2 separate regions of the Homo sapiens genome follow, and region 2 is linked to region 1. Evidence: fine-mapped QTL for protein levels in blood plasma. Region 1 holds a variant in brackets. A gene starts in the other region. All regions are shown on their reverse strands. Region 1 overlaps LHFPL5 (LHFPL tetraspan subfamily member 5). Region 2 holds the start of SEMA3G (semaphorin 3G).

Evidence for each region. PIP is the chance, under the fine-mapping model, that this variant and not a neighbour inherited with it causes the effect. The UK Biobank Pharma Proteomics Project read protein levels with antibody pairs (Olink). The fine-mapping took linkage between variants from a reference panel, not from the people measured, so its PIPs are less certain.
Region 2: SEMA3G starts here. The variant in region 1 is fine-mapped to the plasma level of the SEMA3G protein (UK Biobank, PIP above 0.99).

The regions. Positions count from the first base shown.
Region 1 is chr6:35,806,935-35,814,934 of GRCh38, reverse strand. It overlaps LHFPL5 (LHFPL tetraspan subfamily member 5), which reads right to left. Exons shown (of 4, transcript NM_182548.4): 2 at 153-389. Among named protein-coding and RNA genes, the nearest start is that of LHFPL5, 5.6 kb to the right of the region's middle. The variant G/A (reference allele first, on the strand shown) is at 3,553.
Region 2 is chr3:52,442,433-52,445,499 of GRCh38, reverse strand. It overlaps SEMA3G (semaphorin 3G), which reads left to right and starts at 397. Exons shown (of 16, transcript NM_020163.3): 1 at 397-587; 2 at 2,593-2,753; 3 at 2,879-2,941. The coding sequence starts at 473. RefSeq lists enhancers at 1-423, 424-1,300.

The DNA.
Region 1 (8,000 bases):
GATTTCAGGGAGGACAAGGGGTGTGTCTGATTAGTCTTGGTGTCCCCATCCCTTGGCCAGGGACCAAGCCTTAGAGGACTGGCTAAGATGAACCCCCACCCACATCCCAGGGTCTCCAGGCAGGGGACACCATTGTGGAGTTGGGTGATTACCGGTTCCATCTGCCTTGTAGTCGTCAGGGAGGAGCTTGTCCTGCCGGTAGCCCAACACGAAGGCCAGGAAGGAGAGGATGAGGGCGTCGCCAATGCTGAGGATGGCCAGCATGAAGGCCCAGCGGATGGTGCAGTGGCCCAGCGTGTACTTGCCCGTCTGCTCCCCACACATGCGCCGCACCTCACTTGAGTCCCAACCATCAGGGTAGACCAGGCAGCCAATCATTAGGCCTGTGGCTGAGGGGGAAGGAGGGGTGCACATGGCATCAGGCCGAGTGTGCCTAGCCCGCTACCTCCCACACCTTGCACTGCTGTTATGTTGTCACCTCCCTTCTCCTTCTGTTAACAGCCTCAGGAGGCATGAGAGGCAGCCTCTACCATCCTTCTTGCAGAACACAGGTGAGAAAACTGAGGCTCTGAGAGTTAAAGCAACTGGCCCCCGAGACCCAGTAGTTGGGGCGGAGGCAGAGCTGAGCTCCTAAGCCCAGGCCGGCTCTGCCACCACACCAGGTGGTCCTCCCAGGCCTTCAGCCATTCTCCTCACCTTGGACTCAACCAGGCACCACCTACCCTGGCTTCAAAGCCCTCCGGTATCTAGTCCCAGCCCAAAGAACTCATCACTGCTGAGATGTACATTTCTTCGTACTTACAACATCTGTGAAATAAGCTCAATAAGAAAGTGTCTAGCCTGGGGGTGGTGGCTCACACCTGTAATCCCAGCACTTTGGGAGGTCGAGGCGGGCAGATCACCTGAGGTTGGGAGTTTGAGACCAGCCTGACCAACATGGAGAAACCCTGTTCTCTACTAAAAATACAAAATTAGCAGGGAGTGGTGGTACATGCCTGTGATCCCAGCTACTGGGGAGGCTGAGGCAGGAGAGTAGCTTGAACCCTGCAGGCAGAGGTTGCGGTGAGCTGAGATCACACCATTGCACTCCAGCCTGAGCAACAAGAGCGAAACTCCGTCTCAAAAAAAAAAAAAAAAAAAAAGGAAAAGGAAAAAGAAAGTGTCAGGCCATGGCCAGATTATCAGTATATTTTGTTTTTATGGTACATAGAATAACAGTGTGTCCTACAACTCAGGTATCTTAGATTTAATGTATACAGGAAGGCTTTCCAGACTGTCCCTGGCTGCTTCCTTCAAAAGCCTTCCATTCAAGCAAACAGGTTTCCTCCTCACTCTTACCCAGTACAGCATAGTCCAGTTGCTACACGTCCCTAAATTTAAGAATCCCCTGGAGGCCGGGTGCGGTGGCTCACGCCTGTAATCCCAGGACTTTGGGAGGTCGAGGTGGACGGATTACAAAGTCAGGAGATCGAGACCATCCTGGCTAACACGGTGAAACCCCGTCTCTCCTAAAAATACAAAAATTAGCCGGGCATGATGGTGGGCGCCTGTAGTCCCAGCTACTCGGGAGGCTGAGGCAGGAGAATGGTGTGAACCTGGGAGGCGGAGCTACAGTGAGCCGAGATGGCGCCCCTGCACTCCAGCCTGGGCAACAGACCAAGACTCCATCTCAAAAAAAAAAAAAAAAAAAAAAAATGCTAGTTCCTAGGTCATGGTTGGGTTCAATAATCCCTGTTTTCAAAAGCACTCTTCCAGGTGATTTTCTCAGTAGGAAAAGCTGGGAAACACTAGACTAGGCTGCCTGGATTTCAAACCCAGTTCTCTGCTACCTAGCTATGTGACTCAGAGCAAGCAACTTAAGCTTTCTTTTCTTTTTTTTTGAGACAGAGTCTTGCTCTGTCGCCCAGGCTGGAGTGCAGTGGCACGATCTCGGCTCACTGCAACACCCGCCTCCCGGATTCAAGTGATTCTCCTGCCTCACCCTCCTGAGTAGCTGGGATTACAGGCATGTACCACCATGCCCGGCTAATTTTTGTATTTTTCATAGAGACGGGGTTTTGCCACGTTGGCCAGGTTGGTCTTGAACTCCTGGGTTCAAGTGATCCGCCGGCCTTGGCCTCCCAAAGTGCTGGGATTACAGGCGTGAGCCACCGTGCCCAGCCATACTTAAGCTTTGTTTGCCTCAGTTTCCTCATCTACAAAATGGACATAATAATAACCCTAACCTTCCTGTTGTGGTTACAGCAAGGTTCAAATGAGTTAATACTGGAAAAGAGTGTAGAACAGTGCCTGGCACAGACTTGGCACTCCATAAGAGTTGACTGTGAGAGTTATTATCACACCCTGTGCCTTACTTGACTTATTATTTACAGCTAAAAATTCTGTTGCCCCCACTTTCCCCCCACTTCTTCCATCCCTTTCCATCAAACCATCCCCTCACCTTAGCTTTGCTGGGGTGAAGCAGAGACAGGTGACATAATCCAGGATGCAACTGGGGCAGCCAGCCCCAGGCACAGCTGCCCCACGGGCAGGGGGTGCTCCCCTTATCTGTGCCACTTTCCCACAGGTCTGGAGGCTCTCTAGTCCCAAGGTTGTACCCTACTCAGGAGACCCTCAGAAAAGCACCTCTTCAGGCCTAAAGTTACCTTCCCTGCTTCCAGCTTGTTCTACAAAGAAGGTCAGGAGGTCAAACAAATGCACAGTAAATGGAAAAATCAGGGTCCCACCTCCCCACCTAAATGTATCACGCTTCCTTTGATCTTTTTTAGGAGAAGCTTATTTAGATAGTTCTTTATAGATCACAAAATACTTCATGTACCATCTTGACTGTGATCACCTTTCTGTGAAGTGGGCTGGCTATTAATATCCTCATTTTACAGATTAGAAAACTGAGGGCTCAAAGAAACCAAGTGACTTACCAGCCATCCAGTCATCCAGCTATGACAGGGCCAAGGCCTGAGTTCTCCATTCCTGACTTTCCTGACTTCAAAGTTTATTCCCTCCACCCCCAGAACATGACATCTCTCCCAGGGGCTGAATGTAATTAGCGGTGACATTTCAGACTTCCTACGTGTTCAGTGAAAACTAAGTGTTCAGGAAGATACCCACGGTGGAGGAGAGGGAGCCATCCACAGCTCCGTGGTGAAACCTACGTAGCCAGCCCTTCCCCGACTTGATGTGAGTCCAGCCCTCCAGTGCCTGGCAGGGCCCCTGGCTTCATGGGCAGAGGTGAAGGTGGGAAGGAGCTGCCCTTCCAGGCTTTGCATTCTCTCCATCACTTCCTCCCGTGGCCCCTCCCCTCCTGCACCATCTTCCTGTGGGGGCTCCGGAAAAAAGCCCAGGGCCTCTGACCTGGAAACAGGGTGTTGGTGCCACAGTCCCCTGCGAGCACTCTACCCATCCACCCACGGTTCTGGGGACAGTGGGTGTCAGCCCCAGTTGTGGCATCTCAAGGCTCTAAGCAGAAGCCAGCACAGTGTTCTCAGGCCAGGTTACTTACCCTCTCTGACTTCCGTCCTGTTGTCTGTAAAGTATCTGACTCATAGCAGCACT[G/A]TGAGGATTAAGTGTGATCATTTACAGAAAACGCTTACTATGATGTCTTGTACATGGAAAGTGGCCAATTAATGTTAGTCACTGCTATTATTATTGACATTGGAGTCAGACAGAAGCCACCTCAGTGACATGGATGCCATTAGAGCTGCTCACGAATATTCCAGGTGCAAGGCAAGGTTGTACTTCCTTGCTCCGCTCTCTTGAGGTTAAGTGAGGCCATCTGCCTTCCTCTGGCCAATGACATGTGAGCAGAGATGTGTGTATTTCCGGGCCACAGCACTTAGCTGCAGTGGGAGACCTCCCAGAGTTCCCTTCCCTCTGATGCGAGGACAGCTGATGGTGACTGATGCCACTAGCGAGGGTCCCAGGAGACAACAGTGAGAGCGGAGCCCCCACCGATCCCCGGTTGGCACGGACCATAAGCAAGAAATACATAAACCGTTGTTCTAAGCCACCAAGATTTGGGAGTGGTTTGTTACTACGGCATCACTTCTCATGCTCACTGATATAGTTGTTTCTTGTGTTTTTCTTTTCTTTCTTTTTTTTTTTTTTTTTTGAGACGGAGTCTCACTCTGTCGCCCAGGCTGGAGTGCAGTGGCGCGATCTTGGCTCACTGCAAGCTCTGCCTCCTGGGTTCACGCCATTCTCCTGCCTCAGCCTCCCAAGTAGCTGGGACTACAGGCGCCCGCCACCAAGCCCAGCTAATTTTTTATTTTTGTATTTTTTTGTATTTTTTGGGGGGATTATCCCCTGCCCACAGGGCAGCTGTGCCTGGGACTTTCCCAGTTGCATCCTGGATTATGTCACCTGTCTAATTTTTTTGTATTTTTTTGTAACACGGGGTGTCACTGTGTTAGCCAGGATGGTCTCGATCTCCTGACATCATGATCCACCCACCTCGGCCTCCCAAAATGCTGGGATTACAGGCTTGAGCCACCATGCCCAGCCTGTTTTTTGTGTTTTTCACAGGTACTGAGCACTTACCATGTGCAAGGTGTTTTACATGCATTCTATTATCCCATCTTCACAGAACCCCCCTGAAGTGGGTACTGCTGCTATGTTCTACAGATGGGGTACAGTGGAATGTTTGTTCCTCCCAGATTTCCTGTGTTGAAATCCTAACCTCCAGTGTGATGGTGTTAGGAGGTGGGGCCTTTGGGAGGTGATTAGGTCATGAGGGTAGGGCCCTCCACGAATGGGATTGGAACCCTTATAAAAGGGACCCCAGAGGGGAGCGGGGGCAGCTAAAGGTTGGTTAATGGATACAAAAGTATAGCTAGACAGGAGGAGTAAGCTCTAGTGTTCTTTAGCACTGTAGAGTGAGTATAACCAACAGCAATCTATCGTATATTTTCAAATAGCTGGAACAGCAAATTTGAAATCGTCCCAACTCAAAGAAATGTTTTAAGTGTTTGAGGTGATGGATATGCTAATTACCTTCATTTTCTCAGTAGGAAAAGCTAGGAAACATTAGATCAGGCTGCCTGGATTTCAAGCCCAGCTTGTATACATGTATCGAAATATCACACTGTAGCCCATAAATATGTACAATTATTATGTCAATTAAAAACAATAATAAGGCCGGGTGCGGTGGCTCACGCCTGTAATCCCAGCACTTTGGGAGGCTGAGGCAGGCAGATCGCCTGAGCTCAGGAGTTCCAGACCAGCCTGAGCAACATGGTGAAACCCCATCTCTACAAAAAATACAAAAATTGGCTGGGTGTGCTGGCATGCACCTGTAGTCCCAGCTACTCGGGAGGCTGAGGAGGGAGGATCACTTGAGCCTGGGAGGTCAAGGCTGCAATGAGGTGTGTTCATGCCATTGTACTCCAGCCTGGGTAAAAATAATCATTTTTGAGACCTTGACTCAATAATAATAATCATCAATGCAAATAAATACATAAAAGGGACCTCAGAGAGCCCTGTCATCCTCTTTTCACCATGTGAGGACATCAAGAAGTCAGCAGTCTAGAGCCTAGAAGAGGCCTTCATCAGAGATCTCGTGCTAATGCCATGCCGGCACCCAGATCTCAGACCTCCAGGCTCCAGAACTGTGAGAAATGAATTTCTGTTGTTTTAAGCCCCCTAATCTATGGTAATTTGTTATGGCAGCCCTGACTAAATAGAACTAAGTAAAACTGACTAAGACATGAGGTTACCAAGACTCAGAGAAGACAAGCAGTTTGGTCTACCTGTGTTTCTAGGAGCTGGGACAACTCCCAGCCTACACCTGGCACCCAGAAGCCCAATTAATCTTGTTAAGCTGCAGCCCCACATCGCCCAAGCATCAGTCCTCCTTGCCCCTGCCCCCTCCCTGTTCCCAGGCTTCTTGGCAAGGGTACTAATGAATAGATGTATCTCCCAGCTGCTGGATATGGGACCCGCCCACTCTGCATCTCTCCCTTCGGCTCATTTCCCCTTCCGCAGCACAGCAGAATGGAACATGACACCAGTCTTGCCTTCCCTAACATAAATGTTGCATGAGATGGCACCTGGCCACCTCTGCTATCAGTGTCTCCAGCTTTTCTACCCAGATAGTGTCTGACTCAGATGGCCTGTCAACCCCTCCCCCTCCTGGCACTGCCTGCTCACACATGGCACCTGTTGGGGGATGTTTCAGGGAAGGGGGGTTTGCAGACAGCCCTGAGAATGAGAGAGATGGTTGTGTCTCCAGCATCCCATAACCCTGATAGGGAAGAAGAGCTGGCAAGCATATTAGGGTCTATTTCACTCCTCTTTGGCATAAAACTACTAAATCTTCATTTTCCCTTTGTTCATATATATATATATATATATATATATATATATATATATATATGTATAAAATGAATATATAGTAAAGAATATATATATATATACTCAATATTTTTATTAACCCAGCTAATTTTTGTATTTTTTGTAGAGACACAGTTTCGCCATGTTGCTCAGGCTGGTCTCGAACTCCTGAGCTCAAGCAATCTGCCCACCTCGCCCTCCCAAAGTGCTGGGATTACAGGCCTGAGCCACTGCAGCTGGCCTTATTATTATTTTTATTTATATATATTATTTATTATGATTATTTTTAATTTATATATATATATATATAAAATAGAGATAGGGTCTCACTATGTTGTCCAGGCTGGTCTTGAAGTCTTGAACTTCTGGCCTCAAGCAATCCCCTCTCCTTGGCCTCCCAAAGTGCTAGGACTACAGGCATGAGCCGCTGTGCCTGCCCCCACCATCATTCTTGACATGGCCACCACCTACCTTGCTCCCCACTGCCCACCCCTGCCCCGGCCTCTCTCTTATCATACAGAGAGACTACAGAGAACAGGGAGGTGGCAAGGGGATTTGCTGGGAACTCTGAAGCCATGTGAGTAGCCTGGGTGCAAGATTTGGAATCAAAGGTGCATGCCTTCCTACTTGTATGCTCAAAGACAAGTTACCCACTAGGGGCCTTCTTTGTAAAATAGATAAATACCCACCTCAATGGGTTGTGCTGGGGCTCCTCCAGATATTATATGTAAAGATATTTCATAGATCATTATACTTATGTAAATATGTGGCTCAGTAAAAACATCTTAGGAATACATCTAGTTCCTTGGTCCTCAGTTGCCCGCTTAATTCTTCCTGGTCCTCAGGTGCCTGCTGATCTGCTACAGCCTTGGCCAAGTCTGGTCCTTTCTCTCAGCAGCAGATTCCTCATCTATAGTTGGGGGGTGGATATAGCTCTCTGGGGTCCCCTCCAACTCTGCAGTCTTGAATCTGCATGTTTGGTGGTCTGGGATTCAGATGCCTGTTTCAGTCTCCCTCTTAAAGATGACAGCACTTCTCATTCTGACCAATGAGATGGTTTCACTCTAGTTTCCAGTCCCCGGCACTACTCCTGGACATCTCACCGACATGGACAGTTTGTGGCCCCTGAGGTGTGCAGGGACCAAGGTACCAGAGGCTGCAGCACAAGGTCTTAACCCTCTTCCTGGGCTACAGAGAAGAGCAAGACCACTTGGCACAAGGACCAAGAAGCCTTCCTGAGCTAGAAGCAGGAAAAAGGACCAGGGAGGTTTTGCCTCAAGGCACAAGTAGCTGCCTACCCCACAGTTTTATTTGTTTTATTTTATTTATTATTATTATTATTATTTTTAGAGACAGGGTCTTTCCATCTTGCCCAGTCTAGTCTCAAACTCCTGAGCTCAAGTGATGCTCTCTCCCAAAGTGCTGGGATTACAGGTGTGAGCCGCTGTGCCCAGCCCCCACATTGTTTTAAAGGACCCTAGGCCAGGTGCTGTGGATCACATCTGAAATCCCAACACTTTGGGAGACTGAGGCAGGCAAATCACTTGAGCCCAGCAGTTCAAGACCTGCCTGGGCAACATGACAAAACCCCGTCTCTACAAAAAATACAAAAAAAATTAGCTAGACATGGTGGTGCGCACCTGGAGTCCCAGCTACTTGGGAGGCTGATGTGA
Region 2 (3,067 bases), not on the chromosome of region 1:
AATTGGGGCAGGGCCAGTTTGGAAGGTCTCTGCTGTGGGCAGTGGAGGGGCAGAGAACAAGGCAGAGCCCAGCTAGGCCCCTACCCAGCCCATCAACTTTAACCTCTGATCCCTGACCTCCCTTCCAGGCTCTCTCCCCACTTGTCACTTTGCTGGAGCCTGGGGACCTGCATTTGTGGACATCTCTGTACACATGGCCTGTGCCCTAGCTGGGAAGGTCTTCCCAATGGGGAGCTGGCCAGTGTGGCACAAAAGCCTGCACTGGGCCAACAAGGTGGAAGGAGAAGCGGCAGGTGGACGGCAAGGCCCCAGCCTCCTTCTCTCCTCCGCCCCTCTTCCCGCCCAGGACTGGGTGGAGCCACTGCCTTATAAGTGGTGGCCTGGTGGCAGCAGAGCAAACTACAACCGGCGGCCAGCGGGACCAGAGGGCGGCTCTGCAGGCAGGCGGCAGCGGTGCCCTCAGTTCCCCAGCATGGCCCCCTCGGCCTGGGCCATTTGCTGGCTGCTAGGGGGCCTCCTGCTCCATGGGGGTAGCTCTGGCCCCAGCCCCGGCCCCAGTGTGCCCCGCCTGCGGCTCTCCTACCGAGGTACCAGCCCCTGCGTGCCCTGTTTGTGTGCATGTGCCCTGTTTGTGTGTGTGCGCTCTGTTTGGGTGCATGTGCCGTGTTTGTGTGCATGTGCCCTGTTTGGGTGCGTGTGCCGTGTTTGTGTGCATGTGCAGTGTTTGTGTGCGTGTGCCGAGTTTGTGTGCGTGTGCCGAGTTTGCGTGTGCCGTGTTTGTGTGCGTGTGCCGAGTTTGTGTGCGTGTGCCGAGTTTGCGTGTGCCGTGTTTGTGTGCGTGTGCCCTGTTTGTGTGCGTGTGCCCTGTTTGGGTGCATGTGCCGTGTTTGTGTGCGTGTGCCCTGTTTGGGTGCGTGTGCAGTGTTTGTGTGCGTGTGCCGAGTTTGTGTGCGTGTGCCCTGTTTGGGTGCGTGTGCCGAGTTTGTGTGCGTGTGCCATGTTTGTGTGCGTGTGCCCTGTTTGGGTGCGTGTGCCCTGTTTGTGTGCGTGTGCCCTGTTTGGGTGGCTTGGGCTCTTGGGTGCCTGGTCAGCTGTAGGGGAGGGAGCCTCTCCCTGCACAGCTCTCGGGGAGTGGGAGGGAGGCAGGTCCTGGGAGACAGGACCAGGGTGGCGGTGGGAGGCACCTGAGGGGGAGTGCTGAGAAAGGGACAGATGGAGACCCTGAGAGAGCTCAATAAAGATGGGGAGGAGACAGAGGAAGGGACCAGGCAGGGGAGAGTGACAGAGAGGGTGGGGCTGAAGGGTCTGTCTGGGCTCAACTGGCACTTTTTGCCCAGGGTGGCCAACGGGAGAGCAGGCAGCATGCTATCCCTTGGTCCTGGGGCCACAGAGAAGGGGAGGACCCCCCTTGCAGCCCACTTCCCAGAGTGGGCTTGTTCATGTGCTCCTGCACCCAAGAAGCGCCCCAGCCCAGGGGGAGTTTCACCTCCCCTTTTTGCACATCCCAGCCTGGGGGTTCCTGTGTTCTACCCTAGACATGTGAGCCGGCTCAGGCCTCCACGGATGGGCCCAGGGAAGGCCCGAGACAGGCTCTTGGCAGATCCTTCCTGAGGAAACCAGAGGGGTGACCACCTTCCCCTGGGAAGCCCAGTCTGCTGGGGGAGATGGCGCTCGTCCCTGGAGAGGCTGAGGGGAATGTGGTCTTGTTCCGGGAGCTGTGGTTTTGCGGGGAGGTCAGACTGCTAGAAAAAGCCCCAAATAGGGAAAGTTCCCCAAGGTACTGTCATCCATGGAGGGCTTCCCGGAAGAGACCGTTGATGAGTTTTGGGGGTGGAATGGGTGTTGGGTAGAGGTGCTTCCGTAGGGAAGGCATAGGACACTCTGGGCCTTCCCAAAGGTGGCCAGCACCCTCTTCCTGCCACATCCTACTGCCCCCATTACCTCCACCTCCCTAGCCAAGCCCGGAGGACCTACCTCAGGATCCTCAACTCCTGGGACCGATGTCCCCAGACAGCTCCCCGCTCTCATCTCTGGGGTGGGATAGCCAGCATCTGTGGGGAGAAAATTGTCTTTGGCCGCATCCCTGGACTGGAGGTGGGAGCCCTTCCCGGCCATACCTTCCCTTTTCTGCACCCAGGCCATTGCCAGGGGTCCCCTCTGCTGGGAACAGTTTCGCCTGCTGGCCCACCCTCCAGCTGAGCCAGGCGGCCTGCAAAGACTCCCGCCCTTCCTCCAGGATCTTCCAGCACTTTGCTCTAGTTTCTGCTGGTTGGGGCCTTCTTCCCTGGGGACTGGGTAGGGCACAGATGGGACAGTGGGAAGATGTTAGCTGCATGATGAAGGGCTAAGGAATGGAGGGGTGGGAGGTAGGCCCCAGGGTAGGCTGGGCCAGGTGGGAGGCTCTGAGCCTCCCGTCCCACCTGTCCCCAGGAGCCATGGTCCGAAAGCCTTCCAGCACCATGTGGATGGAAACATTTTCCAGATGTGAGTGTGTCAGGGGTGGATGCTCAGCCGGGGCCTCCACCTCCACTCCTTGGCTGGGGAACTAGGCTGAGCTGTGGCCCTGATCTGCCTCCCCATACATCCTCCTAGACCTCCTGTCTGCCAACCGCTCTGCCATCTTTCTGGGCCCCCAGGGCTCCCTGAACCTCCAGGCCATGTACCTAGATGAGTACCGAGACCGCCTCTTTCTGGGTGGCCTGGACGCCCTCTACTCTCTGCGGCTGGACCAGGCATGGCCAGATCCCCGGGAGGTGAGCTGGACTGGCAGGGAAGAGGGTCTGTTTGAGAACTGGGCACCTCCAGATGGGAGGCCAGATGGGGAAACTGAGCCTGTGAGATCAGGGGAGGACCTGAGGTCAGCGGGGCTGTGTTCCAGGTCCTGTGGCCACCGCAGCCAGGACAGAGGGAGGAGTGTGTTCGAAAGGGAAGAGATCCTTTGGTGAGTGCTGTCGGGAGGGATGGTCCCCCGACCTGACACCCTGCCCTGACCCCCAGGACAATCCGTGACCACGCCCCAGGTACCTCTACCAGGGGCATTTGGAGCAGATCTTGAGGGCTTTTGAAG